5 separate regions of the Homo sapiens genome follow, and regions 1, 3, 4 and 5 are each reported to be linked to region 2. The links are microRNA targets in miRTarBase. Many come from high-throughput screens and were not tested one by one. Region 2 holds a microRNA gene; each other region holds the end of a gene's coding sequence.

Evidence for each region. Region 2 holds the annotated microRNA hsa-miR-523-5p (CUCUAGAGGGAAGCGCUUUCUG, at 2,686-2,707, opposite strand). A microRNA usually pairs through its seed, bases 2 to 8, with sites in the 3' UTR of a target mRNA and lowers its output. Matches are read on the target gene's strand: a 7mer-m8 pairs with bases 2 to 8, a 7mer-A1 pairs with bases 2 to 7 and ends in A, and an 8mer does both.
Region 1: the mRNA of PPP1R3E is a reported target of hsa-miR-523-5p. Seed matches in the 3' UTR shown: 7mer-A1 at 3,534-3,540.
Region 3: the mRNA of ULBP3 is a reported target of hsa-miR-523-5p. Seed matches in the 3' UTR shown: 7mer-m8 at 3,106-3,112 and 7mer-m8 at 3,119-3,125.
Region 4: miRTarBase lists RPL41 as a target of hsa-miR-523-5p. Seed matches in the 3' UTR shown: 7mer-A1 at 1,291-1,297.
Region 5: the mRNA of CCNG1 is a reported target of hsa-miR-523-5p. Seed matches in the 3' UTR shown: 7mer-A1 at 3,311-3,317.

The regions. Positions count from the first base shown.
Region 1 is chr14:23,296,569-23,302,997 of GRCh38, reverse strand. It overlaps PPP1R3E (protein phosphatase 1 regulatory subunit 3E), which reads left to right and starts at 139. Exons shown (of 5, transcript NM_001276318.2): 1 at 139-838; 2 at 1,140-1,700; 3 at 2,134-2,240; 4 at 3,457-3,597; 5 at 4,081-6,429. The coding sequence starts at 422. The coding sequence ends at 1,562. RefSeq lists silencers at 353-862, 943-1,002, 1,013-1,442 and an enhancer at 1,503-1,692.
Region 2 is chr19:53,694,678-53,701,106 of GRCh38, reverse strand. MIR523 (microRNA 523) reads right to left here and starts at 2,722; the gene lies at 2,636-2,722. MIR519B (microRNA 519b) reads right to left here and starts at 5,894; the gene lies at 5,814-5,894. It overlaps MIR525 (microRNA 525), which reads right to left and starts at 3,574; the gene lies at 3,490-3,574. It overlaps MIR518F (microRNA 518f), which reads right to left and starts at 1,092; the gene lies at 1,006-1,092. It also overlaps LOC107985346.
Region 3 is chr6:150,059,142-150,065,570 of GRCh38, reverse strand. It overlaps ULBP3 (UL16 binding protein 3), which reads left to right. Exons shown (of 5, transcript NM_024518.3): 3 at 1-173; 4 at 858-986; 5 at 2,220-4,518. The coding sequence ends at 964. Among named protein-coding and RNA genes, the nearest start is that of ULBP3, 6.8 kb to the left of the region's middle.
Region 4 is chr12:56,116,353-56,122,781 of GRCh38, forward strand. It overlaps RPL41 (ribosomal protein L41), which reads left to right and starts at 281. Exons shown (of 3, transcript NM_001035267.2): 1 at 281-447; 2 at 837-859; 3 at 1,130-1,615. The coding sequence starts at 436. The coding sequence ends at 1,172. ZC3H10 (zinc finger CCCH-type containing 10) reads left to right here and starts at 1,914. Exons shown (of 3, transcript NM_032786.3): 1 at 1,914-1,966; 2 at 2,736-2,799; 3 at 4,159-6,429. The coding sequence starts at 4,211. The coding sequence ends at 5,515. RefSeq lists a silencer at 1,589-1,638 and an enhancer at 4,803-5,800.
Region 5 is chr5:163,441,220-163,447,648 of GRCh38, reverse strand. It overlaps CCNG1 (cyclin G1), which reads right to left. Exons shown (of 7, transcript NM_004060.4): 3 at 6,318-6,429; 4 at 5,685-5,763; 5 at 5,506-5,604; 6 at 5,081-5,275; 7 at 2,633-3,975. The coding sequence ends at 5,084. NUDCD2 (NudC domain containing 2) reads left to right here. Exons shown (of 4, transcript NM_145266.6): 4 at 1-1,123. Among named protein-coding and RNA genes, the nearest start is that of CCNG1, 6.8 kb to the right of the region's middle.

The sequences.
Region 1 (6,429 bases), not on the chromosome of region 2:
GTTGAGTAGCTTCACTCGGGACCGCAAAGGTGGAGTCCCCGCCCCCTGGTGCAGCAGCGAAGACAAGCGGAGCCACCTGTCAGAGGGCTGTGGGCGGGGGCGCCCGGGCCGTGAGGGCCTTGGAACCGGAGGGTGAGTGCAGTTGAGCGCACGCTCAGAGCAGACCGCTAGCAGGAGGCAGGATGTGATAGTCTAAGACCCTGGAAGCTGACGGCCAGAGGGAGGGAAGGGTGGTCACAGAGGAGAGGCAAAGCAACGGGAGGTGGAGGATCCTGGAGGTGTCTGCAAGGAGAATACACAGCAGCGAGGGGCTGCAGAAGCGGACCCAGCGACTTCTGCGCTGACGCGGGGCGGGCGGGAGAGAGGAAGAGAGGGGAGCGCGGTGGCGCTGCGAGCTGGCCCCGCCGGGGAAGGGGCTGCCATGTCCCGTGAGCGGCCCCCGGGCACCGACATTCCCCGCAACCTGAGCTTCATCGCCGCGCTAACGGAGCGCGCCTACTACCGTAGCCAGCGGCCCAGCCTCGAGGAGGAGCCGGAGGAGGAGCCAGGCGAGGGCGGGACGCGGTTCGGGGCCCGATCCCGCGCTCACGCACCGAGTCGGGGCCGCCGGGCCCGATCTGCACCAGCCGGAGGCGGCGGGGCCCGGGCGCCCCGCAGCCGTAGCCCAGACACCCGCAAGAGAGTGCGTTTCGCCGACGCACTGGGGTTGGAGCTGGCTGTCGTGCGCCGCTTCCGTCCCGGTGAGCTGCCCCGGGTGCCCCGCCACGTGCAGATCCAATTGCAGAGGGACGCCCTCCGCCACTTCGCGCCCTGCCAGCCCCGCGCCCGCGGCCTCCAGGTAGGCGGCGGGGGCACCTCCCCTCCTGGGGACCTCCTCCAGTCGGCCGCAGCGGGCTTGTGGGAGTGGATTTGCCAAAGAGCACCCATCTCCATCCCATCCCTGGGCTTGCGCCTGCCCATCCCTTTTGGGGACCCCATCTGCGAGTGGCTCTAGGCCACCCTGGCAGCTGGGCCGCACTCTGCCGGCCTGGACGCCGGGGTCGGCCTCTGATTGGTCCAGTGCCTTGCTCTGACACCGCCCCCTGTCTCTCCCCTCTCTCCGCCCTGGGCTCCCTCCTCCCGCTTCTTCTTTCCCCCAGGAGGCGCGCGCCGCCCTGGAGCCGGCCAGCGAGCCCGGCTTCGCCGCCCGCTTGCTGACGCAGCGCATCTGCCTGGAACGCGCCGAGGCGGGCCCGCTGGGCGTGGCCGGGAGCGCGCGCGTGGTGGACCTGGCCTACGAGAAGCGCGTGAGCGTGCGCTGGAGCGCCGACGGCTGGCGGAGCCAACGCGAGGCGCCAGCCGCCTACGCCGGTCCGGCCCCGCCCCCGCCGCGCGCCGACCGCTTCGCCTTCCGCCTGCCCGCGCCGCCGATTGGGGGCGCCCTGCTCTTCGCCTTGCGCTACCGTGTGACAGGTCACGAGTTCTGGGACAACAACGGCGGCCGTGACTATGCTCTACGTGGGCCCGAGCACCCGGGCAGTGGCGGAGCTCCGGAGCCGCAGGGCTGGATCCACTTTATCTGAGACGAGGCGCCTGCGGCCGACGGCGGAAAACACCAAAGGCACCCGGGGGCGGGGCGACCCGATGTGGCGGGGAGGAGTAGGAGAGACCAGGATTGGCGGGAGCGGTCCAAGGGAGTCAAGCCGGGGAGGGCGAAAAGGGTGGGGAAATCAGGGGCGTGGGGGCGTGGGGGCGTGGGGGCGGGGGGAGTGAGCGGAACCAAAGAAGCTCCGGGAGATCCGGGTGTTAAAAGCTGGTTGGATGTGAGTGGAAGGAACTCAGAATATAGGAGGAAGGAGACCCGAAACGGCACCGGAGGGATTATAAAAAAAGGAAAAGAATGGGGATGATGGTGGCCTTCCCTTCAGTGAGTGGGCTCTGGGAGAAAGGGAGGAGGTCCATCAGGCCTAGGCGGTTGAAGAAGGTTAAGAACCTTTTGGAGATGGAGGAGGTATGATGTGAAGTAGCCCACCCAGTCGAAGGCATTTACATTGCTGGCGCATTCCCTCTTCTTACCGGCCTTTTCCACCTCAGATCCCCCTGTCCTACCCATCCTAGCTTTAACTCAGCCATAATTGCCTTGCTTAATCCCAGGAACCTGGCCACTGCTCCTTGGTCCTTGGCATTATGACGGGATTCCCTTGTCACCTCTGACAGTTCCTGGCTGCGGTGTCCGCGGACTGGCTGGGGAGTGATGACAGGTAGCTATCAGAGCTCCAGCCTCCAGGCAGCTTTAGGGATTAAAACGGAGGCCAAAGCAACTCCAGACCTGTTTTTATAGCCAAATACTGAGCCTCAGGGGTTGTACACTCAGGGGCTTCCAGGAAAATGCCAGCCTTACTTTTCTGGGGTGCCTTTTAATAACCTCCAAGCACTTTGTGGACTGTTTGTCGAGGGACGGTGAATCAGAAGAATCACTATTCTGATTTCCTTTGTCTCCGAAGAGGAAGTCCCTGACTAGCTATATAACTTTGGGCGAGTTACCTCTCACTTCTTTGTGCCCCAGTGTTCTCCTTGGGAAACTGGATTTAGGTTAGATGACCTTTTAAGGCTCCTTGTATGATATTTTGTGATCTGTACATGGCAGAGTATAGATTAGGAGCCAAATTTTCCAACCTAGTGCTATGGTTCAGAATACATAGCACCCCAAGCGTCTGGCTGGAGCCGAGGATGGGTCCTCCAGTTTTTGGCACAGATGTTCCGGAGCCCAGGAAGCATCCCATAACCAACCTTCAGCCCCACCGCCACCCCCAGCGTATTCCAGAGCCGCTTCCAAACCACAGCCTATCCTCTGCTCCATTTCACTCTTGTCCTCACAGACTTTCAGCCTCCATGCTCTGAGACAACTGTGGGTAGGTACATCTCTGTTGGTGGAAATGATGCTTAAGAACCCCAAAGATTAAAGGAAACAATGTTAAGGGCTTTTGTGAGGATAAAAGATAATGGGTATATGGAATAGAAACATTTCAAATGAAGAATCAAAGCATTTCAATCAATCCACTTGGTTGTAAAAAAAAAAAAAAAAAAAAAACAAAAACAAAAAAACACCAAAGCAACTTGAATAGTAAATGGCACCAGAAGATGGCAGTCTGCTCCATAACCAGAGCAAGTGCAGTGGGAAAGCTGGACTCTCATACCCACTCACATTCATGCCTTATATAAGCCTCTCCTCCTGGTTAACCTTAACAGGGGAGTGATTCCTCTGCTGGTTGCTGTTTTTCCTTTTCTCTTACCCTATTCCTAACCTCTTTGCTTCTCTCTTTCTTTCCTTGTGTCTCTTCCTTCTCTTTTCTTTTTTCTTTTAACATATAGGGTATTTTTTTCTTTTAACATATAGGGTATTTACCTTCATTTTGTTTATTTCCATTTGTTTCCTTCTTCATTCATGTTCATCTCTGCTATTCCTTCTCCCTCCAGAAGGGATGGAAACCCTATTTTCTTTTCTCCAAGACCATGGTTGGTCTGCTTCCCTCACTCGGGCTCCTTGACAGTCTTCTAGAAGAGAGAAGGAGGAAAAGAAGCAGTTCCTGATGTTACAAATGAACAAGGATCTCCCAGGTAACCAGCTCCCCACACCCATTTCTGTTACTAATTTCTCAAACAGAAATTTCTGGTTCCCCTTCTTCCTTATCACTGAGTGAAAGGGGACAGGCATGCACATGTGCCCATACATGCATTCAGAATAGAGTGTGGGGGCAGGGGCGGTAGTTCATTCCTGTAATCCCAGCACTTTGGGAGGCTGAGTTAGGTGGATCATTTGAGGTCAGGAGTTCAAGACTAGCCTGGCCAACATACTGAAACCCTGTCTCTACTAAAAATACAAAAATTAGCCGGGCATGGTGATTCATGCCTGTAGTCCCAGCTACTCATGAGGCTGAGGCAGGAGAATCACTTTAACGGGGAGACAGAGGTTGCAGTGAGCTGAGATTGCACCACTGCACTCCAGCCTGGGTGACAGAGTGAGACTCCGTCTCAAAAAATAAAAAAAAAGAATAGAGTATGAGGCTTGTTGGCTTGTTACCATGCCCATCCTGTCCACAGCCTTAGTCTTTGAGAAAAGATGGCTGAAAGAGAGGAACTCTCCAAGTCATTCCGCAAACAAATGCCCATTTAAACATCATCCTTGTCTTGTGAAGAAAACAGGAAGAATGTCATGTACCATGTGGATCACCTTCAGTTCAAAGTTGCAGCAAAGTGAAGAAAGAAACTACTGGAAGCCACCCAGCAATGCACTGTTTAGTCATCAATTAGGAGCCCATGGGAGGATAATAGGGAGACTGGGTGGAGGCTCAGTGTGTAATAATCTCTTGTCTAATGTATGTGTGTCACTGCCATGTTGTATGAACAATAGTGAGGGCTCACATTTACTTAACACTTGTGTGCGCAAATCTGGGTTTTTCTTCCTTTCCAGAACTATGACTCGATCATAAAATCTGTTTTGTTTGCATGCATGCCCAAAACAACCCTGTAAGTAGAACATTGTCATTATCTCTGTTTTAGAGATGAGGAAACAGGCTCAGAGAAGCTCAGAAATTTGTTCAAGATCGCACAGCTAGTAAATGGCAGAAGTAGGATTGTGAACCCAGGGAATCTCCAGAGCCTCTGTGTAACCATGATGTTATATTTTTTTTCCTCTTTAAAAACAAAATTTAAAACCTTGCTATAATCTCTTATTAGGAAATGATCATAGTTTCTGACTGTGCTCTGCCTTCCCATCCTGCCAATCTCCTGGACTGGCTTGGAGAAGACAGGGGGCCCCCGAGCTTCATCTGTGACTCGAAGGAGTTTGCTGCTGTCTCCTGTGTCAGTGTCCCATCTATGCAGGATCAGCACAGGACCCCCCTCACCTTCCCACTTACACTCTAGCCTTTCCATACATTGGAATTCTCTCCTGGCCCTAGCCAGCGCTCCACACCTGTTGGTGTGCCACCTCCCTCCCTCTTCCCCCACTGGCCTTGAACAGGCAAACCCCCTAATGTCGCCACTAGGTTGGGTCCGTGACTAGGACACCTGCTAGAGGGTCTGTGCTTGGGCCTTTTCTAGGAATCCCGATGTTACTGGGTAAGTGCCAACTCTGTGGGCAGAATGCTAATGATAATCCTGTTCCCTGACCTCTTTCTCAGAAGTACCCTGGCTCACTCTCCCCAATCTCAGCTTTATAGAACAACATTTTGGTCTTGATTATTCCCATATCAAGCTGCCCCAGGGCTTCGGTAAGCTGTTAGTTGCCCCACTGCCTCAAGGCTGGGTCTGGCTGAGCTACTTCTTAGGCACACAAATAGTGGGTGTCTCCTTGGAACCTGACACAAAACTATCAGTGCTACCAAGCCTTGTAAAATAGGGAGGAAACTAATATTTCTTGAGTGGCTTCTGAGTGCCTGGTGCTTTCGCGGCTCTCTGGAGAGATTCCTTGCCCTGATGGCTTTGGTGTGTACTCCTCTCCCAGGACTTCAGCACTGAGATTTTCCCAACCCCCTGGCTTTTCCTCACCTTGGGTTGAGTTGATCCGGCACTACCACAAACCCCACCATCTGCAAACCAACCAAGATTAGGCAGTATGCCCTTTCCGTCTTGCACTGCTCTTCCAAAACTTCCATCTGTATTTCTCACACCCTCAGTAAGCAAAGCTGAGTGTGCATGGACAGAGCTGCATCCACTGCTTTCTCCCAGCGGGTGCAGTCTAATCTGACACGGGGAACACTAGGAGTTTAGCGGAATCTTCAGCCACCCTATTAATGTGTTACGCATTAGGCATTGTAGTGGAAACTCCTCTGATGGCTCATGACTATATGAACAGGAGCAATTTGGAATATAACATGTCAGCTGTGGACTGGGAAGTGCCGTGAGAGAAAACACTACCTGGGTCATAGGCTTGGGTCCCTGAGGCAACCCAGCAGGGACACTGTTGCCCATTCCTCTCATCCAGACTGCAGGTGTCTTCCTACACCTCCCTGTCCCATAGCCTCCGTCCTGTTTTTTGTTTGTTTGTTTTTCTTTGTGAATGTAGAAAAACATTTCATCATGAGCCCTAGCTCCTCAGTTTTCCACCTAACACCCACATTCCCTTGTTTCTAACTGCCGTGTTTTTCTGGAGCCTGCTGGGATCTTTGCAGTTTGCAGGTCATAGAATCAGACATGAAAAGGCTTCTCTTCCGACGTCATTGGTTCCTGGCTCCTTTACAGATGAGAACACAGGTCCAGAGGTGAGAAATGACTCTAGCAGGGTCATAGAATTTGTTAGTGCAGCTCAAGATGGGACTTAAACTCAGGCCTCCTGATCACCCATTCCCAGGCTAGGAAACAGGTCTCTGCTCGGTGTGGTGGTTCATACCTGTAATCGCAACACTTTGGGAGGCTGAGGCAGGAGCATTGCTTGAGCCCAGGAGTTCG
Region 2 (6,429 bases):
TTTTCTGGAATCCAGAATATAAACCCCTAAAAGGACAATCTCCAGTTCCTTCCTTCAAAGAATCAGCAGGTTAGCCTTGTTTATCAAGGGGCAATCCTCCTGAGTTTTGTCTGCAAGAGAAAGAGCAATACCTGCTAGACATACCTTATCTTTAACCAAGGGAACTGGGCTGGATTTCTAGAGAACAGCAATGGACGGAGAGCCAAGTGTTCACCTGAGTTTCAGTACAGGGACACACAGTCCCCATGCAAGCATCCAAAATGGAACATAACATACTGAAGAATATACATTGTCATAGACACAAACATTCTCCAGAGAGACCACAGGCTATACCATAAAAGCTCCCCAATAAAATTTGAGCAGAAACACACAAGTACAGGTGGGGCACGGTGGCTCATACCTCTAATCACAGCACTTTAGGAGGCCGAGGTGGGAGGATCACTTGAGTTCAGGAGTTCAAGACCAGCCCAGGCAACATGGAGAAACCATGTCTGTACAAAAAATACAAAAGTTAGCCAGGTGTGGTGGTGCATGCCTGTAGACAGCTATTCAGGAGGCTGAGGTGGGAGTTGGAGGTTGCAGTGAGCCGAGATTGCACCACTGCACTCCAGCCTGGGCGAAAGAGTAAGACTCTGTCTCAAAAATAAATAAAGGAAATTACAAAAATTAGCCGGGCATGGTAGCACATGCCTGTAATCCCAGTTGCTTGGGAGGCTGAGGCAGGAGAATCGCTTTTACCCAGGAGGCAGAGGTTGTAGTGAGCAGAGATCCTGACACTGCACTCCAGCCAGGGCCACAGAGCAAGACTCTGACCCAAAAAAGAGGGCCACTTGAACCCAAGAGATCTAGGTTGGAGAGGGACCACCACACTCCAGCCTGGGCAACAGACACCCTGTATTAAAAACAAAACAAAACAAACATGAAACACCAACATCATCCACGTCTGATTATAAGCATTCTCTGCAAATTTATTACCAAGATAAGCATCAACTTCAACGTTGCTTTTCTCAAAGAGTAATCCTCTAAAGAGAAGCGCTTTCTTTTCTTTTAGACAAGAGAAAGTGCTTCCCTCTAGAGGGTCACAGCATGAGATCTTCTTGCTCCAACACTCTGGGTTTTTTGTTGGAATTTTCCTTCACCCGGTTAAAATGGACACAAAAACAAAGATGCATTTATTGGCCCTGTTTGCATGTTTTCTGGAATCCAGAATATAAACCCCTAAAAGGACCATCTCCAGTTCCTTGCTTCAAAGGATCAGCAGGTTAGCTTTGTTCATCAAAGAGCAATCCTCCTGAGTTTTGTTCTCAAAGAGCAAAAGCAATGCCTCATAGACATATGTACCTTATATTTAACCAAGAGAACTGGGCTGGATTTCTAGAGAAGAGAAATGGATATTGAGCCAGGTGTTCACCAGAGTTCCAGCACAGGGACACACAGTCCCGATGGGAGCATCCAAAATGGAATCTACGATGTTAAAGAATATACATTGTTGTACACACAAACATCCTCCAGGGTAGATCACAGGCTAGGCCCTAAAAACTCCTCAATAAAATTTGAACAGAAACACACAACTACAAGTGGGGCACGGTGGCTCACACCTCTAATCCCAGCACATTAGGAGGCTGAAACTGAAGTATCACCTGAGCTCAGGTGTTCGAGACCAGTCTCGGCAACATGGTGTAAGCCCATGTGTATAAAAAATACAAAACGGAGCCAGGTGTGGTGGTGCATGCCTGTAGACACTAATTCAGCAGGCTTAGGTGGGAGGTAGAAGTCGCAGTGAGCTGAGAGAGATGGCACAACTGCACTCTAGACTGGGTGACAGAGCCAGACCTTATCCAAAAACAAATAAAACATACACTCACACACACACAAACAAACAAAAAAAACCCCAAAGTGATATAAGAGTATTCTCTTCATGTAGAAGAGTATTTTGCACGTATATGGTATTATATATATAAGAATATATAATGGCCGGGCGGGGTGGCTAATGCCTGCAATCCCAGCACTTTCGGAGGCCAAGGCGGGAAGATCACCAGAGGTCGGGAGTTCGAGACCAGCCTGACCAACATGGTGAAACCCTGTCTCTACTAAAAATACAAAAAATTAGCCAGGCGTGTGGTGCATGCCTGAAATCCTAGTTAGTCGGGTGGCTGAGGCAGGAGAATCACTTGAAACTGGGAGGCGGAGGTTGAAATAAGCGAAGATCGCACCACTGCACTCCAGCCTGGTGACAGAGTAAGACTCCATCTCAAAAAAAAAAAAAAAAAAAAGAAAAGAAAAAAGAAAGAAAAATGCAAGTATTAGCCAGGCGTGGTGTCAGGTACCTATAATCCCAGATACTCAGGAATCTGAGGCAGGAGAACGGCTTGAAACTGGGAGGTGGAGGTGGCAGTAAGCTGAGATCACGCCACTGCACTCCAGCCTGGGTCACAGAGTAAGACTCTATCCCAAAAGAGAGGACCATTTGAGCCCAAGAGAGCTAGGTTGGAAGTGCCACCACATTCCAGCCTGGGCAACAGAGATCCTGTCTTAGAAAAAAAAAAAAAACAGAACCCCACCTTCATCCAAGTCTGATGATAAGCATGCTCTGCAAATGTATTAGCAAGATCAGCATCAACTTCAATGCTGCTTTTCTCAAAGGGTAACCCTCTATAGGGAAGCGCGTTCTTTTCTTTCAGACAACAGAAAGCGCTTCCCTCTAGAGGGTCACAGCATGAGATCTTCTTGCTCCAGCACCCTGGGTTTTTTGTAGCAATTTTCCTTGACCAGGTTAAAATGAACACAAAAATAAAGATGCATTTACTGGCCCTGTTTGCATGTTTTCTGGAATCCAGAATATAAACCCCTGAAAGGACCATCTCCAGTTCCTTGTTTCAAAGGCTCAGCAGGTTAGCCTTGTTCATCAAGGGGCAATCCTCCTGAGTTTTGTCTCCAAAGAGAAAAAGCAATGACTACTAGACATACCTTATATTTCACCAATAGAATTTGGCTGGATTTCTAGAGAACAGCAATGGATTTTGAGCCAAGCGTTCACTTGAGTTCCAGCACAGGGACACGCAGTCCTCACAGGAACATCCAAAATGAAATCTAAGATGTTGAACAGGCCTGGCGTGGTGGCTCACGCCTGTAATCCCAATGCTTTGGGAGGCTGAGGCAGGTGGATCACCTGAGATCAGGAGTTCAAGACCAGCCTGACTAACATGGTGAAACCCCATCTCCACCAAATACAAAAACTGAGCCGGGTGAGGTGGCGCATGTCTGTAATCCTAACTACTCAGGAGGCTGAGGCAGGAGAATCACTTGAACCCAGGAGGGGGAAGTTGCAGTGAGCCGAGATTGCGCCATTGCACTCCAGCCTGGGTGACAGAGTGAGACTCTGATTTAAAACAAAAAACAAAACAGAAACCCACCATCATCCAAGTCTTAATTATAAGCATGCTCTGCAAATATATTACCAAGATCAGCATCAACTTCAACGTTGCTTTACCCAAACCGTAACGCTCTAAAGGGAAGCGCCTTCTTTTTTTTCACATAAGAGAAAGTGCATCCCTCTGGAGAGTCACAGCTTGAGATCTTCTTGCTCCAGCACCGTGGGTTTTTGGTTGAAATCTTCCTTCACTGGGTTAAAATGGACACAAAAATAAAGATGCATTTATTGGCCCTGTTTCCATGTTTTCTGGAATCCAGAACATAAACCCCTAAAACGACCATCTCCAGTTCCTTGCTTCAAAGGCTCAGCAGGTTAGCCTTGTTCATCAAGGGGCAATCCTCCTGAGTTTCGCCTCCAGAAAGAAAAAGCAGTGCCTACTACACATACCTTATATTTAACCAAGAGAATTGGGCTGGATTTCTAGAGAACAGCAATCAATTTTAAACCAAGTATTCACTTGAGTTCCAGGACAGGGACACTACAGGACAGACCACAGGCGAGGCCTTAAAAGCTCCTCAGTAAAATTTGAACAGCGGGAGGATCACTTGATCGCAGGAGTTAAGAGTCCAGCCTGTGGAACGTGCTGAAACCTCATCAGTACCAAAAATACAGAACTTACCCAGGGGTGGTGGTGCCTGCCTGTAGACACTAATCCAGGAGGCTGAGGTGGCAGGTGGAGGTTGCAGTGAGCCAAGATCTCACCACTGCCCTCCAGCCTCAGCGACATAGCCAGGCCCTGTCTCATAAAAATTAAAACAAAATACACAAACAAAAACAACTCCAAAGTGATATAAGAGTGTTCTCTGTGTATAGAAGACTATTTTGTGTGTATGGAATTATACACAGAACATTGTGATGAAATATACTCATTTTTTTTTGAGACCCTGTATAAAAAAAAACCAAAGTTCCATATACTATATGCTCACATAAAGCATAATTCCCACATATTGGTGCTTTGACAGCACACACAAATGAATGGGGTGACAGAGATTTCCATAGCCCCCGCACATAGGTGACACCCAAATTCATAATGGGTCCCATATTCAAAATTAGGAAAAAAGGCTGAGTGCAGTGGCTCATACCTGTAATCCCAGCACTTCGGGAGGCCTACGTCGGCAAATCACCTGAGGTCAGGATTCAAGAATGGCCTGGCTAACATGGTGAAACTGTGTCTAAAATACATATATATATATAGCTGGTATGGGGGTACATGTCTGCAATCCCAGCTACTTGGAAGGCTGAGGTTGCAGTGAGCTGAGATCACACCACTGCAGTCCAGCCTGGGAGACACAGAGAGGCTCTTTCTCCAAAAAAAAAAAAAAGAGAATTGCTTGAGTCCAGGAGGCAGAGGTTGCAGTGAGCCAAGATCACACTAATGTACTCCATCTCGGGTGACAGAGCAAGACTGTCTCAAATAGTCAAAGACAGAAAAAAAGAACAGGTCTCGCTCTCTTCTTGATTGTGTATGGGCTCACTTAAGGTCAGGAGTTGGAGACTGGGCTGGCCAACATGTTGAAACCCTGTCTCTACAAAAAAAAAAAAAACGAACAAACAAAAAAAACACAAAAATTAGCCGGGCGTGGTGGTGTGCGCCTGTGATCCCAGCTACTCGGGAGGATGAGGCAGGAGAATTGCTTGAACGTGGGATTGTGCCACTGACCTCCAGCCTGATGGACGGAGTAAGACTCTGTTTCAAAAATCGATGAGTAAATAAATAAATAATAAAAATACAAAAATTAGCTGGGTATGGTGGCTCATGTCTGCGATCTCAGCTACTAGGGAGGCTGACTCAGGAGAGAATGGCTTGAATCTGGGAGGTGGAGGGTACAGGGAGCGAAGTTCCTGCCACTGCACTCCAGCCTGGGTCACAGAGCAAGACTCCATCTCAAAAAAGAGGACCGCTGGGCACAATGGCCCACGCCTGTAATCCCAGCACTTTGGGAGGCTGAGGTGGGTGGATCTTGAGGTCAGTAGTTTGAGACCAGCCTGGCCAACGTGGTGAAACCCTGTCTCTACTAAAAATACAAAAATTAGCTGGAAGTGGTGGCAGGCACCTGTAGTCCCAGCTACTTGGGAGGCTGGGGCAGAAGAATTGCTTGAACTCAGGAGGTGAGCTTGCACACAAGATCGCGCCATTGCACTCTCGTCTGGGTCACAGAGCAAGACTCCGCCTCAAAAAAAAAAAAAAAAAAAAGAGGACCGTTTGAGCCTAAAAGATCTACGTTGGAAGTGCTACCCTACTCCAGCCTGGGCAAGAGAGACTCTGTCTTAGAAAAAAAAACAAAATAAAAACAGAATCCCACCATCATCCAAGTCTGATGATAAGCATGCTCTGCAAATGTATTACCAAGATCAGCATCAACTTCACTGTTGCTTTCCTCAAACAGTAAACCTCTAAAAGGATGCACTTTCTTTTCTTTCAGACAACAGAAAGCGCTTCCCTCTAGAGGGTCACAGCATGGGATCTTCTTGCTCCAGCACCCTGGGTTTTTTGTAGAAATTTTCCTTGACCAGGTTAAAATAGAGACAAAAATAAAGACCTATTTATTGGCTCTGTTTGCATGTTTTCTGGAATCCAGAACATAGACCCCTAAAAAGACCATCTCCCGTTCCTTCCTACAAAGGCTCAGCAGGTTAGCCTTGTTCATCAAGGGGAAATCCTCCTGAGTTTTGTGTCCAGAAAGAAAAAGCAATGCCTACTATGCATACCTTATATTTAACCAAGAGAATTGGGCTGGATTTCTAGAGAACAGCAGTGGATTTTCAGCCAAGTGTTCACTTGATTTCCAGCACAGGGACACACAGTCCTGATTAGAGCAGTCAAAATGGAATCTACCATGTTGAAGAATATACATTGTTGCACACACAAACATCCTCCAGGATAGACTACAAGGGAGGCCTTAAAAGCTCCTAAAGAAACCCTGTCTCTACTAAAAATACAAAATTAGCCAGGCATGGTGGCGCAGTCCTATAATCCCAGCTACTTGGGAGGCTGA
Region 3 (6,429 bases), not on the chromosome of region 2:
TGACTCAAACAACAGAAAGTGGACAGTGGTTCACGCTGGAGCCAGGCGGATGAAAGAGAAGTGGGAGAAGGATAGCGGACTGACCACCTTCTTCAAGATGGTCTCAATGAGAGACTGCAAGAGCTGGCTTAGGGACTTCCTGATGCACAGGAAGAAGAGGCTGGAACCCACAGGTAACTGACAGGGGAGCACTGGGAGCATGTTGGAGATGCCATCGAGTTACACCCTTGTCTGTCAGTGTCTGAGTATGGTGGGTGTGGGTGTATGGGTGTGAGTGGGTGTGAGTCTATGTATGTGTGAGTGTGAGTGTGTGTTTGAGTGAGTGTAAGAACATGAACCCCTCATGGGGGCCTCCTCCTTGGGGTGCCTATGCTCTCCCTCCTGACTCCTCTTCCTCACTGCACTTGCTTTTGCTCCACTCACTGTGGATTTCTCACCAGCCTCAAAACTGTGGGCGTCATTGTGTTTCTAGACCTTTCTCCTTAGATTTCCCTCCTCCTAGGATCACTTTTCCTTTCCTCTCCCTTGGTTTGTTTCTGGAAATCCATCAAAACCACCTCGAATGGCAGCCCCGAGACTCTCCTGTCCCGGCCCTAGGGCATCACCTCCTCTTCCGCCACAGCAGGAGGGTGGGCTGTGCTGTCACCTTGCTTCCCTCAGCAGCTGTGTGAGCTCCCTGAGGACAGGGAGCACCCCTTCTCCCTTCCTACCCCCAGGACCTGTCACAGCGGCTGCCCCACAGCAGGGGAGACAAATCCTCTGCCTTCCCGGATGACCTGGGGTAGCAGGAGCTAAGGAGCCATCTCCTCAGATTTGGAGCGTGGACAAGAGTTGTCACTTTTGTGTTTCCCTTTCAGCACCACCCACCATGGCCCCAGGCTTAGCTCAACCCAAAGCCATAGCCACCACCCTCAGTCCCTGGAGCTTCCTCATCATCCTCTGCTTCATCCTCCCTGGCATCTGAGAAGAGTCATTTAGAGTGACAGGTACTGTGGGCAAAACTGTGAGGGGAACGAGAGACAGATGGGTGAGGTGGGAGGAAGGGAAAGGAGAATTTCCAGAGTCCCACCTCTCCCCATGGCCGGGACCTTCTCGTTCTGACATGAGACAGGTGAATGAGACCTGGTGTCGCCTGTTTGCAATGACCTGGGCAGCTCAACCTTGAGTTCTGATGGATTCTCACCATCAGGGCCAGAGGGAAAGGGAGGGACCCATATCAAGGCTCAGGGCCGGTTGAGTTCAAGAGGGTTTAGACAGTTCAGGCCTATTTCACAGCAGGTTTCTATCTGGGAAGGGTAGTGGTGTGTGGCCTGCAGGCAGCAGGAACTCAGGCATGGGCAGTCTGCACAGTAGGAGAGGAGTAGCATGGCCACTTCACCAAGGATGTCAAGGGAAGGGGTGTCCCTGGAGGAGGCTAAGAAGAGAGAAACCTGGGGGAATCCCAGGACGAGGGGGCTGTGAGGGCCTTGGCCCACCCAGTTCCTAAGGCTGCATTCCCAGAGAGAGCACCTTGAGTCCCAGCAGTTAAGGTGGAAGGTGAAGAGTAGAGCGTGTCCAGGATGAGGTTTAGGAAATGGCCGAGCCCCTTGGACCCATGGGATTCCTGGCTAGGCCCTGGGACGATGCCACTGCCATTCTGCCTCGTGCACACTCCAGATCCTGAGCCAGCTGATGGCCCTGCCTGGAGCAGAGTGGACTCAGCTAGGGCAGCTGAGCTGCTGCTAGAGGTCCGTGGTCACCACTGAGCTTGGCCAGGAATGAATGGGGCAGGGCAGGGACAGTCCCATTCAGAGCTATGGGTGCAGCTCCCAGGGTGAGGAGAGGCTGAGAGCGAAGGAGAAAGAAGGTTTGCCTACAAACCCACCCAAGGCCAGGGAACATGGATCCAGAGACCTCTCTTTGGACAGGGCTCCCCCAGGTCCTCTAGACCCTTCTATGAAAGGGAGGAGCAGGCCCTGAGTGAGGGTGCAGACCCCTCATTACCAGCCTCAGGTCTGAGCCCCTATGGGCTGTAACAGGACCTGGGCTGCCTCTGTGGTGTGGTGAAGGAGGGTGGAGGTTGGGAAAGGCTGCACAGCCAGGGGTAGGGTTGGAGGGAAAAACATGTTCCTTATCTGGGGGAGAAGCTCTGAAATGGGGAGGGCCTGGGAAGGATCACCCAGGAGAACAGACCCAGGTTTTTCTCAGCCACTTAAACCAATGCTTCATCTTTCCTCAAGGTGGAAGGTGATATCAAGAAGCCTCTGTTAGCCTGGTCTGGTTCCTGCTCTCCCTTCAGGGAGGCCGCCTGTCTACTCACCACTGTGCCTTTCTGGAAAGCAGGAGTTCAAGCCTTAGCAAGCCCAGAGGCCCCCAGCAGATGATGAGGACATTGTCGGCTCAACATCTCAGGCCACTCATTACCTTCGCTCATGATCCCAGCAGCCATTTTTCTTTTTTTTTTTTTGTTTTTTTTTTTTTTTGAGACGGAGTCTCGCTCTGTCGCCCAGGCCGGACTGCGGACTGCAGTGGCGCAATCTCGGCTCACTGCAAGCTCCGCTTCCCGGGTTCACGCCATTCTCCTGCCTCAGCCTCCCGAGTAGCTGGGACTACAGGCACCCGCCACCGCGCCCGGCTAATTTTTTGTATTTTTAGTAGAGACAGGGTTTCACCTTGTTAGCCAGGATGGTCTCGATCTCCTGACCTCATGATCCACCTGCCTCGGCCTCCCAGAGTGCTGGGATTACAGGCGTGAGCCACCGCGCCCGGCCAGCCATTTTTCTTAACACCTTCTGCCACTTTCTCTCGGTGCTAATGGATGGAATTCCTGCACAAGTTTTAACTGAACAAGAAATCCCAGCAAAAGGCATTTTCTTTCTACTTCTTTGATTGTGGAAAAGCAGACATTTCTCTGAAGCATGACCTTATTCTTCGAAACGGTATTGCTAGTAAAATAGCATGCAGGACTTCAGACCTCAGGGATCCTTTCCATGCACTGACCAAGAATTGTATTAATCCTTTTTATCATTATAGTTTTTTTACATTTTCTCATTCTGTCAACCATATTGGAGTGAAGTGGCATAGTCATCACTCACTGTAATCTCCAACTCCTGGGCTCAAGTGATCCTCTAGACTCAGCCTCTAGAGTAGCTGGGACTACAGGCGCATGCCACCATGCCTGGCAAATTGTTTTATATTTAGGTAGAGATTGGGTCTTCCTATGTTGCGCAGGTAATAAAACTGTGAAAATCCTGGAATATAAGCTAAGAAATACCAATGTGGACATAGGGCCTGGCAAAGATTTCATGAAGAAGACACTAAAAACAATTGTAACAAAAACAAAAATTGACAAATGGGACCTCATTAAACTAAAGAGCTTCTGCACAGAAAAAGAAACTAGCAACACGGTAAACAGACAGCGTGTAGAATGGGGAAACTATTTGCAAACTCTGCATCTGACAAAGGTCCAATATCCAGAATCTACAAAGTACTTAAACAATTAGACAAGCAAGAAAAAAAAACCCAATTAAAAAATGTGCAAAGACATGAACAGACACTTTTCAAAAGAAGACATACAAGTGGCCAACAAACGTGAAAAAATGCTCAATATCACTAATCATCAGATAAGTGCAAATCAAAACTGCAATGAGTTACCATCTCTTACCAGTCACAAAGTTGGAGATGGTGGTGAGGCTGCAGAGGAAAAGAAACAGACACTGTTGGTGGGAAAGCAAACTTGTTCAGCCGCTATGGAAAGCAGTTTGGAGATTTCTCCAAGAACTTAAAATAGAACTACCATTCAAGCCTGCAATCCCACTACTCGGGATATATCCACAGGAAAAGAATTCATTTTATCCAAAAGACACCTGCACCAATATGTTCATTACAGTGCTATTCTTACTAGCAAGGACACAGAATCAACCTAAGTGCCCAGCAACACTGAATTGAATGAAAAAAATGTGGTACATAAACACCATGGAAATCTATGCAGCCACCAAACACAGCAAAATCATGTCCTTTTCAGCAACATGGATGGAACTAGAGGCTATTATCCTAAGCAACCTAATGCAAGAACAGAAAACTACATACTGCATGTTCCCATTGGAAAGTGGCAGCTACACATTGAATTCACATGAACCAGAGGCACTGGAGATTACTAGACAGGTGAGACAGGAGGGGCACCTGGGCTGAAAAACCACCTGTTGGGTACCATGCTTACTGTTTGAGTGATGAGATCATTGGGACACCAAGCCTCAGCCTTCCAAAATCTACCCATGTAACAAACCTGTATGTGTACCCTTTAATCTATAATAAAGGTTAAAATTAAAGATTCGTAAGTAAAATAAAATGACATAGAGCCCTCCAAAAAATGGGGTTAACTGAGTGGAACGAGAGAACTTTGCACTATGAACGCTAACCCAGATCAAAAACTAAACTCTAGTCATTTAAAATAATCGTAAGTTGTATATGATGATAATTGTATAAAAGTTATACGTGAAAGTGCCAAACCCTAAAATTAAACACTGCATAATGAAATTATACAAGATTTCCATTTCCATCTTGTTCTTTATACCCTTACTTTTTTTTTTTTTTTTTTTTTTTTTTGCCAGTTTCAAGTGACATTTTTTTTGTTTATCCTCAGGAAATCCTTGCTGTCAGCCTTCTCCTTCTACACCCACCCCCTCCTTTTCCACCGTCCACATCAGCTCTTCCTCTGGTCTGGGACTGTGGCATTCTTGGCACTGAAGGCACAAGAGCTGCATTCAGCCTCAGGAGAGAGGAGGACACAGGGCAGGTTGTGGAGGTGGTCTCACCATTGGAGGGGAACCTAACAGCTTAGGCCCTCTATCACAGATGGCTGTGTTTCTCCACCAGGTTAGCTACAACCAAGCCAACCTTGCCCCTTTCCTCATTGTTTTTTTTCTAATTCTTCCCAACTCGTACTTGAAAATTTATATTCTTCCTCCTAATATTTCTTCGTATTTCTTGTCTGCACAATATATCCTGATTTATTGTGCCCAGAAAACAGTGGACTCACCATGTCCGTGACAGCTGCAAGGACACAGTCTCCACTCACTGGAGGGGCATGCTGGGCTTGGAGCCCCTCAAAAGCCCCTGCCCCAGAGAACTCTATTTGACTAGTCTGGGACTCACTGGAAAAGCCCCATTCATTGGGTTTGTCATTATTTGACCAGCTGAGGTCTCTCTCTAGGGGAAAAGCCAGATCCTCAGACCACTGGCTAAAAGCAATCATTCCAACTGTACAACCTCACCGTTTGCATGTGGGACAAACAAGAGACTAGTGGGGGAAATTGAGAGAAAGATTTGGGGAATAAGATGTGCATAGGGGCCGGCACGTGCCCAGGAAGCACCTGAGAAGGCCACATCTCTGACCTTTGGCTGACCTGGAGGCTGTGTGCAGGCAGGAAGTGGAGCTGCAGTGGTGACATCAGCTGCCCGCCTGAGTGCGGCAGGGGCAGGAGTGCACCACACACACAAAGCCCTCCGCACTGAGGAGAGACTTACCGGCTCAAGGCATTGATGCAAACCTCTATCCAACCTCACCTAACTGAGCAGAGACTTCAGGGTCCACCTGTGACAGGGAATACAGATGTTATAAGATCCATCCAGGAAAGTCAGTAAACAAGCAGCAGCAACACACCTTGAAGAGAGGGGACATCTGATTCTCAGAGATGCCACGTTGTATTCTTGTAAATGTTCAGTTTCATCTCAAAAAACATAAGATGTGCAAAGAAGCAGGGAAGGATCCCCAGACACAAACAAGGAACCAGCCCTTGGAACTGTCCCCAAGGAAGCCCAGCCATTGGCCTTAGTGAGTTACTTAATGTCACTCCGAGGCGATGGCAGTCAAGGGGAGACTGTGTGGAGGAGGCTGTCCAGCTTCCTTATTTCCATGGAGGACTCAACAGATGTGGTGCTAGAGACTGAATGTCTGTGTCCCCCCAAACCTAATCCCCAATGTGTACTAGGAGGGGGAAGTTTGATAGGTCATTAGGTTTTGAGAGAAAAGCTTTCAAGAATGGGGTTGGAGGGCCAGGCATGGTGGGGTCGTACCTGTAATCCCAACATTTTGAGAGCCTGAGACCGGAAGATCACTTGAGGTCAGGAGTTCAAGACCAGCTTGGCCAACAAGGTGAAACCCTGTTTTTGCTAAAAATACAAAAATTAGCCATGGTGTGGTGGCAGGCACCTGTAATCCCAGCTACTCGGTAGGCCAAGGCAGGAGAATCACTTGAACCCAGGAGGTGGAGGTTGCAGTGAGGCAAGATCGCGCCATTGCACTCCAACCTGGGCAACAAGAGGGAAACTTTGTCAAGGAAGGAAAGGGAAGGGAATGGGAAAGGGAAAGGGAAACTGAAAGGGAAGGGAAGGGAGAAGGAAGGAAGGAAGTTAGGAAAAAAGGAAGGAAGGAAGGAAAAGGATATAAAA
Region 4 (6,429 bases), not on the chromosome of region 2:
TTTTTCCCCGTCTGCACCTCTAGGTCCAATATTGGAAATAGGTGCTGACGTTTAAATAACACAGCGTCCTCATACTAAATCTGGGGGGGAACTGGTAACTCGAAAACCAAATACTCGGTCTTCCGAAAGAACTAACTCAACCTACCCTTCTACAAGAGGGTCCGAAAACCACTGTTACGCCCATTGGGTAGCCCCGCCCTTGGGGGGGGCAAAGGGCGTGAAAGCGGAAGTGACGACACCCGGCGCTCCATTAAATAGCCGTAGACGGAACTTCGCCTTTCTCTCGGCCTTAGCGCCATTTTTTTGGGTGAGTGTTTTTTGGTTCCTGCGTTGGGATTCCGTGTACAATCCATAGACATCTGACCTCGGCACTTAGCATCATCACAGCAAACTAACTGTAGCCTTTCTCTCTTTCCCTGTAGAAACCTCTGCGCCATGAGAGCCAAGGTGAGCGGTTCCTGGTAGTAAGCTTGGGAGGTAGGAGTTGGCGAGTAGTAGCGAGGAGACGAAGGCAAGTCCGCCATACCTCCTGAACTACTGGGTTTCAAGGGTGCCCAAGAGCTGGTGGGAGAGAGAAGGTAGTTTGTGAGAGAGCTAGCGGTTAAGTGCTATGGGTAGAGAGGGTGGGCTTAGAAAAGGGTGGAATTCTGATCTTATGTTGGGAGGGTGTCCAAGTTACTGATGTAGTTGTTACGACCAATCTTTCATACTTCTTGGTTAAGAATCTGTCCGGTTCTAAAGAGTGCATTTCATATCCTTGCTAAGCCTACTAATAAGCTTCATCCCTTTTTTTTTTTTTTTTTTTTAATTATCTGCTGCTTGTGATCGGTTGCTAGTGGAGGAAGAAGCGAATGCGCAGGTACGTTGAGACTTTGCCAGCCCAGGAGGAGGGAAGTTCCTTGGACAAAACTTAGGAGAAACATTTGGTTTGGAAATCTTAAAAGATCTTTAGGAGAAAAACGTTTGAGTGTTTTCTCCCTGGAGCCAGGATTTAACAGAACAGAGAACGATAGAACCGTAGTGCTTGTTCATTTTACCACCTCATTCTTTATGTGGACGTTTGATTTAATGTGGGAGGGAAAGGCAACTCTGGTTTGAGGTGTATTCCATTCCTGTGTCTGCTTTTCAGGCTGAAGCGCAAAAGAAGAAAGATGAGGCAGAGGTCCAAGTAAACCGCTAGCTTGTTGCACCGTGGAGGCCACAGGAGCAGAAACATGGAATGCCAGACGCTGGGGATGCTGGTACAAGTTGTGGGACTGCATGCTACTGTCTAGAGCTTGTCTCAATGGATCTAGAACTTCATCGCCCTCTGATCGCCGATCACCTCTGAGACCCACCTTGCTCATAAACAAAATGCCCATGTTGGTCCTCTGCCCTGGACCTGTGACATTCTGGACTATTTCTGTGTTTATTTGTGGCCGAGTGTAACAACCATATAATAAATCACCTCTTCCGCTGTTTTAGCTGAAGAATTAAATCATCTTGTCTATTATGTTTTTTATGGTTCCATCGGGTGGGGGTTTTCTGTCATTAGAGTTTGCCCTGTCACTACCTGTGCTATGGAGGGTATCAAAGCTATAAAGGCAACAGCCCGGGTTACGTGGTGTGGTTTGCATCTCGCTGGAGTTGGATGGGATATGGTACGTCTCTGGAGGCAGGTTTTAGGTTTCGCGGGTTATTAGGGGCCAATGCTGGTACCGCCCCTTTCCAGGAGGGCTGCCTTGGCGACTACCGCTTAGACCATGTCGTGCCTTTGGGTTGGGTTGCCATAGTGACACGCAAAGCGTGCTGGGAACGCCCTGCGGCATGTCGCACGCGTACTTCATACACCATAGAGTATGGTTCCGGGTCTGCTGGCTAGAGCGTCACTTCTTCCGCAGGAAGCGGAAGAGCGATCGGGTAGGCGGCTCTTTGTCGAAGCTAGAGGACCGGCAGGCGGCAGCAGCAACTACGGCGGCGGCGGCAGGTGAGGGAGGCGGGAGACTTAGGTGGAGGCCGCGCCCGGAGGGGAGGAGTCGGGGCCGGCCCAGCGGCTGGGCTCGGCCAGGCCACAGAAGGCCCCCCAGAACCGAGCTGGCTCGTCCTCACACCCCAGGGCAGTGCCCCTTTTCTGAGTGACCCCGCATCGCGAGCAAACGCCAGCTTCGTGACGTCACAACCCTGCCCATCCCCTCAGCTTGATGACACCTGGAGCTCCAGCTCCCCGCTTCACTTCGCGCGCCCTTAGTGTCCCATTCACGTAGCCCACGGCTGAGCGCCGGCGGCACTGCACGGAACCTGCCAAGCTAGAAGACTTGCTGCGGGAAAACTCCTAGGACTTCTTTCGCAAACTCTAGGGTGTTGGGAAGCGTCACAATCACTGCCTTCAAGTCTAATCGGCCATCCCAATGCACTGTCAGACGCTGCCTTTTTGAGGTTCCTCACTAGCCATTACTAACTCCAGCCCTTGGCGGTGCTCTGACCCTCACATCCTCTTTCATCTTGAGGCAGGGCGCCCCGCACTCTTTGTTCACTCAGGGCTGGTTTTCCAACCCCTCCTCCCAGTCCCTCCGAATTAGTTTTACTCTTCTTACTGGCAACTTCTCCCTTGGACAGGTGAAGTTCAGTTTGAACCCTGAGGAAATCCTCACGTTCTCGAAGCTTTGCCGTTTTGTCAGATTTCTTGTGACAACCACCCCATAGTCCTCCACTCTTACTCCTTCTTCCACCCAAGTCTCTGTTTTTTTCCTGCTCAGAACCCAGCAGTGATGTGGAGGTGGAGACCCACAGGAGCCCCGGACTTCACCTGAGCTACCTCAGGTATCAATTCTGGGAGAGTGGGGTGGGGAGGAGCATCATAACTAATTATCTGCTGCTGGTGCGACTTGCAACGTGAGCCAGGCTTGGATAGATGGCATTTGTACTTCACCTGGTCATTCCCCTTTACTAAAAGTTTGTATCTTCTTTTACCACTTCTTTCCTTGATTGCTTCTATTATTCTGGGACTACCTCTCTTTAGAGGAGGAGGACCCTCTTACAGATTCTCTTGTAACTCTGGCCTCTGGTTTGGTTAGTTCATTTTAGGGAGATCTGAAGGCAAAGTCACAGTAGTGGGGTGGGGGTAGGTCAAGGCCAAAGGAATTAGGAAAGATTCCCTTATTCTCAAAGGGAACAATATGAAGTTTTCCTATTTCAGCAGCAGGGGGAGCCTGAACACCGCATAGGAAAGGCTTGGGAGGTCAGACACGTGGTAGCAGGGACTCCAGGTCTTACTGGGGGTGGAGAGAGGGGAGGGCTAGAACCAGGGCAGTGGACTGACATTCCAAAGCTCTCTTGGGAAATAGGAGACTTAAAAAGCTTTTATGGAGTCTATAAATAAAGAGGATCTTTCTGGGTTGAGGAATGGTGTGGTTGGATGTCAGTGGGATCTTCACATAGGGGAGTAGGAAGGGGGTGGGGAATGGGGAAAGGTCACTTGTTCCTGTGAAATTAACTCCTTCCCACTTGACCTTATCACAAATGGTTTGTCCTAGGAAATCTAGAAGTGGAGACTCTAACTTAGAACTCCTATCCTGAAATAGAAGGGGCTTACCTCTCTGCCGTTGACAGTGATGATGGCTGGGAGGGAATACTAAAATATGACAGGTTTTGAGACTCCCCTCAAGCTGGTGACACCAGTCTCTTCACCCAGGATTTCTTGGCTTCTAGAGATTTGATGTGTACAGAGCCCTTACCTGAGGAAAAGGAAAGGGGGTTAAGGAAGTTTTGTTACCAGTGTCCCATCTTCTACAGCCCTAGTAGCTCAGTAGCCCATCTTGGGCACTATTCCCAGTTTCCTTCCAGACTATTCAGATACTGACTGCAGTTTTAATTTCACTTCCACAACTTTAATAAGGTCAGCTCAAAAGGAAAGATGAATTCCAACACTATTTTTTCCCTGCTCCGTCCTGGGCCTATCCCTCCTCCGTTAGCCAGGCAAGTGTGAATCATTCTGACCCAGACCAGGTGCACAAAACCCTGGGAGGGGCTTTTGATGAGTCAGACATTTCAGCCAGAATTCTTATCCCTTAGATTCTCCATCTCTAAAGCCATTGCCCCTCTGGGCCACCTGCTTTATAGTCAGGAAGAGTGGGATCTCCCTGGAGGACTCCTGTTTGATACAGTTCTCCTCTTTTGTAGTGGTCACCAAGAGTGGCAAGATAAAGAAAACCCTGAGTTGGGCGGGACCAGGATGCCTGACCGGGACAGCTATGCCAACGGTACCGGGAGCAGCGGTGGAGGCCCTGGAGGTGGTGGCAGCGAGGAGGCCAGTGGGGCAGGGGTAGGCAGTGGCGGGGCCAGCTCAGATGCCATCTGTAGAGACTTCTTGAGGAATGTGTGCAAGCGAGGCAAGCGTTGCCGATATCGCCACCCAGACATGAGCGAGGTGTCCAACTTGGGGGTGAGCAAAAACGAGTTCATCTTCTGCCATGACTTCCAGAACAAGGAGTGTAGCCGCCCAAATTGCCGTTTCATCCATGGCTCCAAGGAGGATGAGGATGGCTATAAGAAGACAGGAGAGCTTCCCCCACGGCTGAGGCAGAAAGTAGCAGCTGGCCTTGGCCTTTCACCGGCTGACCTACCAAATGGCAAGGAGGAGGTCCCTATCTGCCGTGACTTTCTCAAGGGTGACTGTCAGAGAGGAGCCAAGTGCAAGTTCCGTCACCTGCAACGGGATTTTGAGTTTGATGCTCGGGGTGGAGGAGGCACTGGTGGGGGCTCAACAGGCTCAGTCCTCCCAGGACGACGTCATGATCTCTATGATATCTATGACCTTCCTGACAGGGGCTTTGAGGACCATGAGCCAGGCCCAAAACGCCGGCGAGGTGGATGCTGCCCCCCTGATGGCCCTCATTTTGAGTCATATGAATATAGTTTGGCTCCACCGCGAGGGGTGGAGTGCAGACTGCTAGAGGAGGAGAATGCCATGCTCAGGAAGCGGGTAGAGGAGTTAAAGAAGCAGGTCAGCAACCTGCTGGCCACCAATGAGGTACTACTGGAACAAAATGCTCAGTTCCGCAATCAGGCCAAGGTCATAACCCTGAGCTCCACTGCACCAGCGACTGAGCAGACTCTGGCCCCCACTGTGGGCACTGTTGCCACTTTTAACCATGGCATTGCCCAGACTCACACTACTCTCAGCAGCCAGGCTCTACAGCCTCGTCCAGTGTCCCAGCAAGAACTGGTGGCCCCTGCTGGAGCTCCAGCTGCTCCCCCAACTAATGCTGCACCTCCTGCTGCTCCACCACCCCCACCCCCACACTTGACCCCAGAGATCACGCCACTGTCAGCTGCCCTGGCTCAAACAATTGCCCAGGGAATGGCACCTCCACCTGTCTCCATGGCTCCTGTGGCTGTATCTGTGGCTCCTGTGGCCCCTGTGGCTGTATCGATGGCCCAACCCTTGGCAGGAATCACAATGAGCCACACCACCACTCCCATGGTGACTTACCCTATCGCTTCCCAGAGCATGCGCATCACGGCCATGCCACACTGATGGGGCTAATGGACACTCCCCTGGTATAGCCTCGCAGGGCTGGGGTCAGGGGGCCCTTGCCCACTCACCTAGCCTTCCCCATCCCTGTCTGAAGGGCTCCCTTGAGAACTAGGACAAGAGACTACAAGGAGTATGTCCTGAGGAGGGGTTGGGATGGTGTGTTTTCTCTCACCTCCCTTTTATGAGGGTCCTCTTGTCCATCTTCAAGCCTCACAGTGGGGGCTTGCAGAGGAGTGCAGACTGAAGCCAGCAGAGAGGAAGGACTGACTGAGGGGCTGTGTCCTCTTATGGGAATTTGGGAACATCCCTCGTCTTGTCCTCTCTTCTGCACAGCACAGGTTCCAGCACTGGTTTTAGAAGAAAAAAATACCCTGCCCAGAGGGAAAGCCAGGAAAGATTGGGAAGTGGGTGGTCAGGAGAGAAGGCCTGATAGGAGCCTTCAGACAATTTGGGTCCTAGTTGCTTGGGTTGGACAATACAGGAATTGCTTCTGGGCCCTGGGAAAGCTGGGACCATAGTGCTCCAGCCCAAAGACTAGGGGAGCATTCATTACCCTAGTTTGACCTGAAAATCCATAGGGCAGGGCCCACTACTTTCCAAAGAAATAAAAGAACAATTATTTTTAACAAATGGAGGCAGTGAAAACTTGCTTAGCTATTCTGTGTGGAAGATGGGAGCAGTAAATAGATCTCATGCCAAAATGGGATAAAGACCCCAGCCTCACATAGCTTTGGTAAGATGGATAGAAGCCAGTGAAGAAGGGTAGGGACCCAGAACAAGACCAAATGGGGCTTTGGGGAAGGCACTTTATGGGGTAAAAGCTTTGGAGCCACCCAGTCTAGTTTTAAAAATAGTCCCATCTGTTTCTGGTCTCTGTCTGTATGTGCTATTCCCAGGTTGCCTCAGTAACCAGG
Region 5 (6,429 bases), not on the chromosome of region 2:
GCTGTTTTAGGTAGAAGGGTTTTATGTCAATTAAATCTAGCTGGTTATTAGTATTATTCCATTTTCCTACATCTTTGCTAATTTTCTATTAATTCTATGGACTACTGAGAGAGGAATGTTTAAGTTTCCAACTGTAAATGAAGATTTGTCCAGTCCTCCTTTTAATGCTACCACTTTTTGCTTCATGTTTTTTTTTTTTTTTTTGAGTCTTACCCTGTCACTCAGGCTGGAGCATAGCAACTCTGTCATGCTTCACTGCAGCCTCAAACTCCTGGGCTCAGACAGTCTTCCCACCTCAGGCTCCTCAGTACCTAGGACTACAGATGTATATCACTATGCCTAGCTAATTTTTGATTTTTTGTAGAGATAGGGTCTCCCTATGTTGAGTAGGCTGGTCTTGAACTCTTGGCCTCAAGCAATCCTCCCACCTTGGCTTCCCAAAGCATTGGAATTACAGGAATGAATGAGTCTCTGTACCTGGTCTCTTCATGTATTTTTAAGATCTGATAATAAGTGCTTACACTTTTAGCACTGTCTTGGTGAATTTTATCATTATATAATGTCCCTAATTATCCTTGGCAATTTTGGTTGTTCCTAACTCTACTTTGATGAATATAAAAATGGCTTTTTAATTTATTTTTTGAGACAAGAGCCTCACTCTGTTGCCCAGGTTGGAGAGCAGTGGTGTGATCTTGTCTCACTGCCTCACAGGTTCAAGCAATTCTCCTGCCTCAGTCTCTGGAGTAACTGGTACTACAGGCATGCGCCACCACACCCAGCTGATTTTTGTATTTTTAGTAGAGATGGGGTTTCACCATGTTGGCCATGCTGGTCTCGAACTCCTGGCCTCAAGTGATCCGTCCACCTTGGCCTCCCAAAGTGCTGGGATTACAGGTGTGAGCCACTGCGCTCGGCCTTAAAAATTGGCTTATCTTTTAATTCATCTTGACTCATGTTTACTGTTTTTTGGTTTCTGAAAAATAGATTTAATAAATAATAACATTTTATCAAAGTTATTAGTATAGAGAAATAAATTGAGTGTTGTTATTATTCTATGATCATGATGACAGCACAGAAGTTAATGTGGCCAGCATATAGTTTTGATTAAAAATTATACAAGCAATTTCACTTGAGTCCAATTAATCTTTTATTTTGAGAGGTAATGTATAGAGTGGTTAAGAGCACAGCCTCTGGAGTCAGAACTGCCTGGCTTTGAATCCTACCTCCAAGTACCAGGTATAGACCAGGGGCAAATCATTAGGTTCTCTGTCTCTCTTTCATTTGCAAATTGGGATAATGTCATTCAGTTGAGAGGATTTTAATGAGATGATTCATAGTACCAGAGAGTAAAAATTATCACTGCCAGCCACAAATGTTAAATCGAAAATATAAATTTTTAGATAGGATGTCTCATAATTGTAAATATGTACAAGGTTCAGATACTTTTTAAAAAATACTATGAAACATTATTAAATAAGTCTAAGGCAAGTCAATTATAAAAGGAGGCTTCTTTTATGAACAACTTTTCTTTCATCAGTAACTCCTTGCAGTGTCTACTTTACAGGATGTTAGTTTGAACATGAACTGTTCAAAATCATATTAATTAATTCAATTCCAGTAATAATTACAATTGATCCAAGCAGGCTAACATAACACATGGTGGTTACCTGGCATTAGCAACCACGCTGCTGAAGTGTTGTTTAATTAGGTAAGAAGGCTGGCACAAAACTTCAAGTGGGCTGAAACTAAAAGTAAATATATATTAAGGATAGCATCCATAGCAGTGATGAATCTAAGTGATAAAAGGGATTAATAATGCATAAACACCAACTTTTAATACACATTAAACAATTATTTGTCATCATTCTATGTCTATTAAAAAAACATTAGAGGCTAGGCACGGTGGCTTATGCCTGTAATCTCAGCACTTTGGGAGAACGAGGTGGGCAGATCACTTGAGCCCAAGAGTTTGAGATCCGCCTGGGCAACACAGTGACAACACTGCCTCTACAAAAAAAAAAAAAAAAATTAGCTGGGTGCGGTGGCATGTGCCTATAATCCTAGCTATTTCGGAAGCTAAGGTGGGAGGATCTCTTGAGCCTGGGCTGCCAAGGCTGCAATGAGCCAAGATCGCGCCACTGCACTCCAGCCTGGGTGACAAGAGTGACCCTGTCTCAGAAAAAACAAAAAGTAAAGTGTCAGCTAATAGTCATACTATTAATAGGGATTTTATTGTTTCTGGTACTATGCATCTAACTTTAGTACTAAATTTAAATATACTGGGTAGAGAGAGCTTTTTATAATGTTTCAGAAAAAACAAAACAAAGTGTCAGCTAATAGTCATATTATTAATGGGGATTTTATTGTTTCTGGTACTATGCATCTAACTTTAGTACTAAATTTAAATATACTGAGTAGAGAGAGCTTTTTATAATGTTTCAGAAAAAACAAAGTAAAGTGTCATCTAATAGTCATATTATTAATAGGGATTTTATTGTTTCTGGTACTATGCATCTAACTTTAGTACTAAATTTAAATATACTGAGTAGAGATAGCTTTTTATAATGTTCTGTTAACACATTGCTAAAAGAGTTAATTAAATCAGAGGAGAAAAAAGCCACCCAGCAAAGGATTGAATTTCATTAACTTTATTGAAAGGTATATCCCTTAGTACTAAAACATAATGGTAGTTGGTTAGTTTACCTCTGCCAACTCAAAATTAACAATGATGTATTCAAAATATTGAAATTTATCAGCCTTTTGGGAAAACTAAAAAGTTACCCATAAAACATGGTTTACAAAAGTTAAGAATAAGATATACTGTGGTTCTTTGGTTTTTCATTGTGTACTGATCCATAACGTGATGTCAAATTGGATATAGCCATCATGGATAGACTCAGGCTATACATTGCACTGAGTAACTGTTTACAACACTTTAACACTGTACTTCTTACATTCACTAACTGCCATGGAGGATCCTAAACACTACTTCAGCAGCTTCATTCATAGTTATGAAGGTGTCTACTTGCTTTTCTTAAGATTTTTGTTTTGGCACAGTAAGGGCATCAGTGGAAGTATATTCTCTATTTATAAAATTGCCATCACTTCTAACTTAAAAACAGTCTGTAGTAAAAAATTCTGGAGTGTTCAATCTAGTCTGAACTTACCTTAGTGTGGGAAAGCAAGTTTTCGAAGTGATAATTTATTTTGAGTTACTAATACAATAGAAACTAGTTTTCTTGATGGGATTCAGTTTGAGGCAGTAGGTTCTGTATAAAAATTTTTATCGTAGATACAAATGTCACCTGTTTTCTAGAAAAAAATATTAAAAGATAACTTAATGAATATGCCAAACTTTATAGGTCTGTATTTTTCTTTATATAAAATGCCCTCAAATTTAAATGTAATTCCCATATAGCAATAAAGTCCACATCTCTAGATTACCTATTACTTGCATTATGGGGTGTGTTTATACTGCCTAGAATGTTAACCCTTATTATGCCTTAAAAGTACATTTGTGAAATGTTGCTTTTGACATAAACCTCATAACTTAAAATTTAAGTAGGAGTAGGATTAGAATAATGACAGTGATTGAAGCTGTGGGAAGACTGATAGTTGATAGTATTAGTGTGACTCCTCCAATAGCATTTTCAATACCACCTAAATATATTGATCCAATATCTAAAGTTAGATCAATGATAGAAATGAAGATTCACAGTTTACCTTCTCAGGCTTGTCATTAGCATTTCACATTTAGGCTTTTAGCTTTGATTTGAATGCTTCACAGATGAATTCAAATCTAAACATAATTCCACTACAGCATAATATTAGGCAGTTTTCCCAAGTCTGAGACCATCATGCTTATCTCGTGATGTTTTGAGGCTTCATAGCTTAAATCCATTGTAACATTATGGAATCCATAGAACAAGGTTGTGGAGAAAGGCTTCAGAGAAGTTTTTTGGTGCTGTAATAATCCTATTTAAATAAAGAAAACAAACAAAATCCAACTTAACAGAAGCCAGTCTGCCTAAATACTACTAAGAAAATTGAAATGTTCATATCTAATATTCATAATCACATGTAGATGTATTAAATGTTAACATTTAGTTTTGAGTAGAATAAATCATCACTGAGTTAGGAAATTTATATGGCAAGAATGTATATCACATATGCAGAAAGCAAGTTTACATTTTTTATGCATATAACTACTTTGCAGTAGTCCAGCTGCTATAGCAATGATAGGTTAGTATAGTGTTGACACACTCTGGCAGTTTCCAGATACCCAATGTAGAGACCATCTATCATATCCTACTTTTTTTCTTTTTTTTTTTTTTTTTGTGGCGGAGTCTTGCTCTGTCGCCCAGGCTGGAGTGTAGTGGCGCGATCTCAGCTCACTGCAAACTCCGCCTCCCGGGTTCCCGCCATTCTCCTGCCTCAGCCTCCCGAGTAGCTGGGACTACAGGCGCCCGCCACCGCGACTGGCTAAATTTTTTTGTATTTTTTAGCAGAGACGGGGTTTCACCATGTTGGCCAGGATGGTCTCGATCTCCTGACCTCGTGATCCGCCCGCCTTGGCCTCCCAAAGTGCTGGGATTACAGGCGTGAGCCACTGCATCCGGCCTACTTTTTTTTCTTTTAAGTACAATATCCAAGTTCATATTGATTTTGCTTATAAGCTAACAGTCTCAAATTAGTTCATACTTGGTTCAGACTTTTGGTGCTGTTGTCCTGCTCAGCTTATGTAATTTTAAATCAGTCAGATACATACAGCAAGATCATGTGCAATTAAAAAAAAGCATGATTTTAGTGCTACAAGGAGGATGCTGTTCTCTAAGCTGAAAATTTAATGAAATGGCTAACGTATGTATCAGAGGTTGGATAATTCCTTACTCCTAAGATGTTGTACCTTGTATATAGTAAAGGCCTTCAAATATTAGCTGACTAGATCAGTGATGTCATCTCCCCCTTTACTATTCCAACTCCATTTTGTTTATTTTGAAGATAATTACTCTTCTTTAGTTGAAAATTATGGCATTGGAAAATGTTCTCTATCTGGAGAATAATAACGGACCAAATTTACCAGTTAAGGGACCATTTCAGGAATTGTTGGAAGGTGAGTTATTCTGTAGTAGCTATGCTTCAATTGCCGTGCAGTACGCCCAGAAACAATCCATTTCAACTTCTGAACATTTGGTTTGGAACACTTATTTGATGAATATTCAGTTAAACATTTGGATACAAGCTCTTGCCAGAAGGTCAGATCTCTGCCATTTATCTGTACATACATAAATTTTAAAAAATTATTACTCCAAGTAAGTCCCACCTTATTTAACTACATTAATAAATGCAATCCTATGAACATGTGTCTTTGCTCATTAAAAACATTTGAGGATAGCTACTTAAGTTTCAAATAAACATATGACATCTCATTTTACTTCAGGAGATAGAAGGGGTTTAGTTTCTTTTACAGCTGTTAATAGGATTTAGGCTATGTCCTTCACATACCTTGGAATGTTTCTGAAGACATTCTATTCCTTCTGTTAACTCTACACACTTCTGTGCTTGGATCTCTAATGCAATGATAGACAATGCCAACACAGAAGGCTAAAAGAGATAAATTTAAAGTAAATGCCAAATATAAAAACAGATCATATCAATAGGCATAATCTTTATAAAATATTTACCTTTGCTTTAGAAAATATGATCCTGCAATGACATGCCTTCAGTTGAGCTTCTAGTCTTTCAAAATTAATGCTATTTCTCCTTTAAAAAGAAAATGGTATTACTTTTATTAGGTAATACTACATCTAGTCAAAAGATGTTTTTAGAAAAACATTGAAGTCAATTTTTAAAGTAAAGCTTATGCACACTTAACATAGCAAATGAACTATTGAAAGGAATTCCCCTTCCATCAGAGATACTAACTTCTAAAGGCACCATATGGGAGTTTTAGATGATTTGGGCCAAAAAATTAAAATGAATAGTACTATGCCACAAATACAAGATTTATTTTCTTTTAGTTTTAATAAATATTTCAACATCCACTGAAGGTCCTTTTTTTCCATAAATTTGTGTTAGATGCTTTCCTACTAGGTTCTATAAAGTCAAAATGTACTTTAATCCCAAGAATTAGCTTTAACGAAGCTATTGACAATGGAACATTTTCTCACTTATGATGGACATTAAAGTTCAAGGAGCCACAGCTGTCATTTTACTTATTTTTATTAGAATTCTATGAGGATACTGATTTTATGCAATATCCATACAATACCATTCTGATTTCCAAATGTCTCTTGTTCAAAACAAAGGTCACTTACCTTTCAAGTGGCAAGTTCTCTTGAAGGAGTGAATAATACAGTTGCAGAAATTGAAAGGCAGTAGTAGCTTTGACTTTCCAACACACCTTCTCCAATACAATCTTTTCCATTC